Regions from separate parts of the Homo sapiens genome. Here region 2 is reported to be linked to region 1. The links are microRNA targets in miRTarBase. Many come from high-throughput screens and were not tested one by one. Region 1 holds a microRNA gene; the other region holds the end of a gene's coding sequence.
The links. The annotated mature microRNA hsa-miR-4743-5p reads UGGCCGGAUGGGACAGGAGGCAU and lies in region 1 at 1,531-1,553, shown strand. An mRNA with a match to its seed (bases 2 to 7 or 8) in the 3' UTR can be bound and repressed. Matches are read on the target gene's strand: a 7mer-m8 pairs with bases 2 to 8, a 7mer-A1 pairs with bases 2 to 7 and ends in A, and an 8mer does both.

Region 1 (3,410 bases):
GACTTTTATGACACCGATCTCGTGCTGCCCCCAGTGGTGCTCCGGCACCCAGCCCTGTTAGAGGAGTTTAGGATTTGTTCTAAGGGCCATCCACTGTCTGAGGGCAGGAACCAAAACTGATTTTTTTTTTGGTTCACAAGGCCCAAAACAGAAGAGATGCTTGGTAAATGTTTAAACAATGAACTAGTTACTCTGAAAGGTGAGATTCGTATGAACTCTGCAGCTGGAAAATGACCCAACTCATGGGACATCTCTCACCATTCCTCAGTCAATACCAGTAATAATAGTAACTGACAATACTTACTATGCACCGGCCATGCTCCAGCCTCTGTTCTAAGTGTTTGCCTCATTTATTTAAAACTCGCCACCACCCAGAGAGGGAGGAACTGTTACCATCTTCTCTTCAATAGATGAAGCAACTAGGAGACCCAGAAATTGAGTAATTTGCATGAGGCTGGGTTGGCTCCAGAATCTGTGTCCTTAATTAATCACCCTCCTGCCTCTTTGCCTAAACAACAGCAACAATATTAGTGGTAATGAAAGTAGTCATAGTAGTAGCAATATATTTACTTCATTATTTATTTTAATTTTGTTATTATTACCAGTATTTACCATTAAACATATGTGTGTATGTTTAAGATATATTTAATGGTAAATACAGATAATAATACATACACAAGAAATATACACACACACATTTATAAACAAACAAGCTAAACATTTATATATATATATATATATATATATATATATATATATATATATATATAAGCTAGACTATATATGTGTGTATATATGTACCGTTTACTGTGGGCTGTCACAGTTCTAAGCATCTAAGCACTCCAGATACATTCATTAATTTAATCCTCCAGCCACCTTAAGATGTTAGACACTATTATCCTCATTTAACAAATGAGGAAACTCATTTGATGAAATGAGTACAGAGAGGTTAAACAACTTGTACAGGGTCCCCAGTTGGTAAGGGATGCAGCGGGGATTCAAACCCTGGGAGTCTGGTTTCGGAATCTGCACCCTTAAATATGCCAAAGATTCAGACCTCTGGCCAGGGAGTTGGGGCCAGCCTCTCTGGCCCGAGGGCACGCCCACTCACAGAGGACATGAAGACAAAGCATAGACTATCTGAGTGGGCTTGCTGGACTGACCCAGAGTCAAGCCAAAAAGGAAGGAAGCCCTATTGGGTTTTCTGCTAGCCCCTGCCAGCCTATGTGACCTTGAGAAAGTTGCTTGGTGTCTCTGTCCACTGATCTTCTGTTCAGTGTAATGGGGCAAGGTGGATGGGCTTTGACAGGAGTTGTGATGAGTAAGGAGCTTAGCTTCTCTGCCTGGAAGGAGCAAGGGGAACTCTGGTTCCTCTCCCACCTCCCTCCAGGTTGGCTGTTGCATTACGGGAGGACCCCCCCCCCACACACACACAGCTTCTCTAGGGCTGTTTCCTCTAGGTGGGACAGCCCCTGCAGGGCTTGAGGGTGGGCAGCACCAGGTATCTGCTGACTGTCCCTCCTCTCCTGCTGGCCGGATGGGACAGGAGGCATGAATGAGCCATCTTTCCAATGCCTTTCTGTCTTTTCTGGTCCAGGTGTGGCAAAGGGAAGCTGGAAGATGGGGATGGCATCAACCTGAATGACATCGAGAAGGTCCTTCCAGCCTGGCAGGTAGGTGCAGGGGCAGGCTCTCTAACAGCCCACCCCCACCCCTGGAGTCCTGATCCTCTTCCTGGACAGGACCTAACCAAAGCACTCCTTCTGGCTGCTTGTTCCAGCAAGGAGTGTAACCGCCTGTATGGTAGTAATAGGCAGGGCTGGCTACCTGCCATTCTCCAGGGTGTCCCATTGTGATCGTGTGTGTGACAGCCTACTCGGTGATGCTGCAGGCCCTGCTGGCAGGCCTGATGTGCCCTAGAGATGAAATAGACCATGCCCTGGCAACTCAGTGAACTTGGAAGTTTTTGTCCCTTGGCCTGAAACCTCTCTGCAGGTGAAGTGTCCTGTGGTGTGTTCAGGTGGGACTGGCAGGCCTGGAAGAGATTCTAATGTGGCTGGGGCTGTCTTTAGGCTTTTGAACAGTGGACTTGCCCTGCTGGCCTCCAGGTGTCTGCTATGCTTGCTCTTTTTTTTATTGATTGGGCCTCTTTCCTGGAATCAGGCCAGGTTCCAGGACAAAGAGGATTCACTCAGTGAATCCAGGTCTCTAGATACTTATAGTGCTGGACTTTTGGTGGAAACAGCAGGAGTCTAGCTGCTCTCAGGAGTGTGACTGGGCCTGCTGCAGGGGTGTAAAAGCAGTGGACCTTCCACAGTGACTGAGTCTGCCGCTGCCAGTGACCATGACCTACCACCACACTCCACTGTGCCACCCTTCCCTTCTCTCCTGATTCTTCTCCTGCTATTTTATCTATATCCATTCATCTCTTCCTGGTGCCTTTGCCATTTTGTTTCTTCTCTGTTCATGCCTTGGGCCTATCAATGAGAGACAATAGAGCATACAGTTAAGACCTCATCTATTTGATTATGATGTGCCTTGGTGTGGTGGTTTTCTTCATGTTTCTCCCACTTGGGATTTATTGAGTTTCTTGGATCTGTAGGTTTATAGTTTCATCAAATTTGGAAAATTTTCAGCCACGATTCCTCCTACTTTCCCTCAACCCTGGGGTTCCAATTGTATGTATTCTATGCTTCTTCATCTTTTCCCATGGCTCACCAAAGCTCTGCCTGATTTTTTAAAGTCTTTCTTTACTCTCTGTGTTTCATTTTGGATAGCTTTTATTGCTATTTCTTCAAGTTCACTAATATTTTATTCCAGTGTCAAATCTACTGTTAATCCCATTCAGTATATTTTTCATTTCAGACATTGTAGTTTTTATCTCTCGAAGGTCATTGTGGGCTTTTTTAATAAGCCACTGTGTCCAGCTAGAATCTGCATTTTTAAAGCATTGTAGGAAATTCTGATTATCAGCAAGAGTTGAAAACTTAAAGTCCTGGCTGATAATGCTCCTGGCTTGACTGCTCCTTGGAGTATCTACAATTCACATGGGTACCCTTAGGACAAGGTAGACAGGCTTCTTGATCCCCAAACACAGACTTTTGGTGTTTGAGGAATTTGCGGTCCTGTGAGAGCACAATGGGATGACTTATCTGAGTTTTCCTAGTGTTCTTCAAAGCCCCTCATAAATAGGGCTGGCTGGTTCACTCGTCTGGCCTTGGGTCCTGAGGGTCAGCTGGCCTAGCTATTAGCATATGTGGTGGGGACAACTCTTAATAGTATGGACGTGTCCAATGCAATGTGGGATATTTAGGACTCCTGGCCTCTGCCACTGAATGGCCGTCACTGGAGAGGGGCAGGCATAGTGACCACCAAAAACATCCTCCTACTTCCAGATTCACCTAGGAGAT
Region 2 (3,410 bases), not on the chromosome of region 1:
ACGGTGACAGCACACATTTCTGTTGTCCTTAGCCATGCAGGGCACTTTGTTACGGCAGTCCTGAGTTAAGGTCCCTGCCTCTCTTATTGGCTGTGTAAATTATGGGACCACATTGAGCCCTGTCCTTAACTGCAAAATGGGTATGAGGACCCAGCTGGTAGGTGATGCATGGTGGAATTAACACAGGTACAAGCGGTGGAAAGCATCCAGGTAACAGAGGGCTTGTGCTCACTCCACAAGTCCCAGCCACGTGGAGGGTTTAGCCTCTCCTTGCCCCACGTACCGTGTCGTCGATGCTGCCGACACACTGGTCCCCAGGGCTGGTCTGTTGGTGGTCTAGCTGGCTCCCACTCAGCCTTCAAGCCTTTCATCAAAGTCATGTTCCCAAGAAAGATTTCCATTAGCCCCATTCCTCCCCCTACCTCCAGGTGGAGCTGGTCTCCATTAGGAGTCCTTCACTCCTTTCTCCCCCACAACACGGTCTTCCTAAAGCACGGTCTGCCCTTGTTTGCCACAATCAGCACTTCAAGGCTGACACCTGACACACAGAAATGACTCCATCCTAAACTTTCTATTTCGGGACTGGGGTTGCCAATTCATGGGACCCAGAAAACAGCAAGTCATCGATGTGCTTTCCTTTGGGTGCCTGGTATAACACCAATTCCCATTTGGTTAGTGGTGACTGAGTGACTCGTGTTTCAAGAGCAAATTAAATGAATAGCAAGAAAATAGACACCTGCCACACCAGCTGTCCTACTGTCATCTAGGGGTGACTATTTTGGGGAGGCAGCCATTGGTGTATGTATAAATACGTACATTAGGTTTCATGTTTGTTTTATTTAAAGTCTGGTTGGGTACAGAAAACACACACACACTTAACAGGTTAAAATATCCAAATAAAATTTACTGCAACTTTTGTAGAATTTTATTTGTGCTACAAGACACGTTGCATAGGAAACTATTTAAAGCCCCTGAGGAAAAAATATCCATGGTTTAAGGTGCAACTGGTTTTGTTTCTTCTTTGGGGAAAAGGTGATAGATGGTCTCTGGGAGAAATTATGGGGTGGAGTTGAGAAGCACAATCGAAGGTTATATGGTGGGATGATTGGCGAATTGTGTGTCCTGGTTCTTGCAGCATAAAATAGCTAATGTTTGTTCTTTTTTTCAGTCCGTTGGTCTTCAGTATCTGAATAAGTAGCTATACAACGTTTCAGGCCAGTAAGGGAGTATACATTGATTATACTAAGGAAGTAACATGTTTCAAGAAAGCAGTTTTAGAGAATGAGATTCGGGATCCCAAATGGTCCCTGACAACTGCAGGCACACAGGAAGTGTCCTGGCACGTTGCTAAGGATCACCTCACTCTACTGATTTGCCAGTATCAGTCCTTCCTCCTGCTCCCTTCCAACACGCGACATCTACGACGCATTGTGAGATTCACACAGCATGTCTGCACCCTAAAGTTATTAATGCAACACTGTGTCAAGTTCCTGATTTTATGTGAGTCACATTTTCATTTTTACAAAATGCTCATCTTGCTCAGATGATCTTTACATTGTACAAAAAATGGTTTCATCTAAACTATGACTTCCTTCCGAGGAGACACAGGTACACCAGGAAGGAAGAGGGGTTAAGCCTTAGATGAAATGAAATGCAGAGTTTGGCAAATGGCAGCTGGCACCTCTGCACATCAGCATAAGGCGTTGCTTGTGAGGCCAACCACAGCATCTGCAATAAGCACGAGAGTCAGTGGCCACCAAGGCTCTGATTCGGTCATGAAGTTTTCTTCCTGTCCACAGAAGAGGCAGCAAACTCTATGGGAAGCACTGCTTTGACCTCAAGGAAAAAACAGTACAATGGCCTCGTAGCAGCAGGGACCACCTCACTCTCAAATGGCATTGTTCTTGTCAATGACTAATTGCACACTGGCAGGGGCCCTAAAGACTGTCAACTCATGGCTGCTTTCTAATCTATTGGCAGAAACAGCTCAGGGCACCTAAATGCTAATGCGGGACTTCACTCTGCCCACTGAAGCTCACCAAAGATTCACATATTCTATGGATGGTCATTTACTACGAGTGAGGCAAAGCACGGAAGACAATCAAATCCGAGGAGGGAGCAGGACCTGGGGCCTTCTCAGAAAGAATGAGCTGTACCCGTTTACTGAAAAGCCACTTTTTCCCACGTGATTCACCTTCTTACACGCAGGGAGTGAAAGAGGTCCAACAACCGAACGAGCATCTTTCCGGGCTGAGTGTTGAAATGCAAAGTGTGGCCGGGAATCAGAAACGCTCCCAGTGACCTTTAAATACCTATATACATCTCTAACATAATTTAAAAAGGTCTATAACAACATAAAAACCTCAACAGCCTGTGCCCCTATTTTCTTTTAAACCTTTATGGTCCATAAAAAAATTAGATACCACCTTTCTCATAGATCCCTTCCCCCCATTCGTTAAAAAAGTGATTTTAAATTTAAATTTATACTTAACAAATAGAAAGCTATGTGATTGGCAACGAGCTGCAGTAGGCAGTCCCTTCAGGCCTCTCCCTCGATGGAGGAGGGCGGCGCATGATGGGTGTAGCCTAGCTGGCGGGCCCTAAATCTGTCTGAGCAGCCGCCCCTTCCTCCCTCTTCAGCTCCGCGGTGACAGCAGGGCACGCAGGGCAGAAGAGGGCTTGCACTCCAGAGCAGCAGGAGGGGAGGGGACCCATTCAAATCACGAAGTCGTCCTGGTCCGCAGGGCTGAAGGCGGCTGCTCTCAGAACGTCCAGGGAGTTCACCAAGATCAGAGTCCCAGTGAGGTGCTTCCAGCGCTTGGTGATGGGGTTTTTCATCTTGTCCAGGCCCAGGTGCAGCTCCTGGATGACATCCCGGTAGCTGTCCCCGATCTGATGGCTCCAGGTGAGTAAGAAGTCATACGCAGGCTTCCACATGGCCTGGGAGGTGGAGTTGTAAAAAACAAAAGGAGGGAGAGAGGAAGAAAGATTAGGAGACAGAACGAGATTTGTTCCTATTACTTGGTGCAGCTTCAGTAGTCACTATTTGGGACACTCTTTCACGAGTGAGACAAGCCCACAGAAGAAACAGTGGAACCATCTCGGGGCCAGGGTCAGCACATTCCAGAGGGAAAAGCAGGGCTTTGTGCAAGAGTAGGTGCGCAACAAATGAATAAACAGAAAGGACTTCTCTTTCCTTACAATCTTTATGGCACTTTCTCTCTGTGCCATTTGTTTGGAAATTCATCCCATTCATAAAAGACAGCTTTGTCCTTGGGACTTCCTGCTTCCTGGATCTTGCAAGCCTGAACCGTCTTCCAGGAAGCTTACTAGGGTGCCCTCCACAAACATGCGAGAACACAAAGGACCTCTGAGCAAGAGCCCGGCCACACCGGCTTTGGCCCAAGTTA

Region 2: the mRNA of SH3BP4 is a reported target of hsa-miR-4743-5p. Seed matches in the 3' UTR shown: 7mer-A1 at 2,273-2,279.

Annotation. Positions count from the first base shown.
Region 1 is chr18:48,669,072-48,672,481 of GRCh38, forward strand. MIR4743 (microRNA 4743) reads left to right here and starts at 1,529; the gene lies at 1,529-1,597. It overlaps CTIF (cap binding complex dependent translation initiation factor), which reads left to right. Exons shown (of 12, transcript NM_014772.3): 6 at 1,598-1,673.
Region 2 is chr2:235,053,122-235,056,531 of GRCh38, reverse strand. It overlaps SH3BP4 (SH3 domain binding protein 4), which reads right to left. Exons shown (of 6, transcript NM_014521.3): 6 at 818-2,940. The coding sequence ends at 2,716. Among named protein-coding and RNA genes, the nearest start is that of SH3BP4, 100 kb to the right of the region's middle. RefSeq lists a silencer at 373-667 and an enhancer at 3,296-3,410.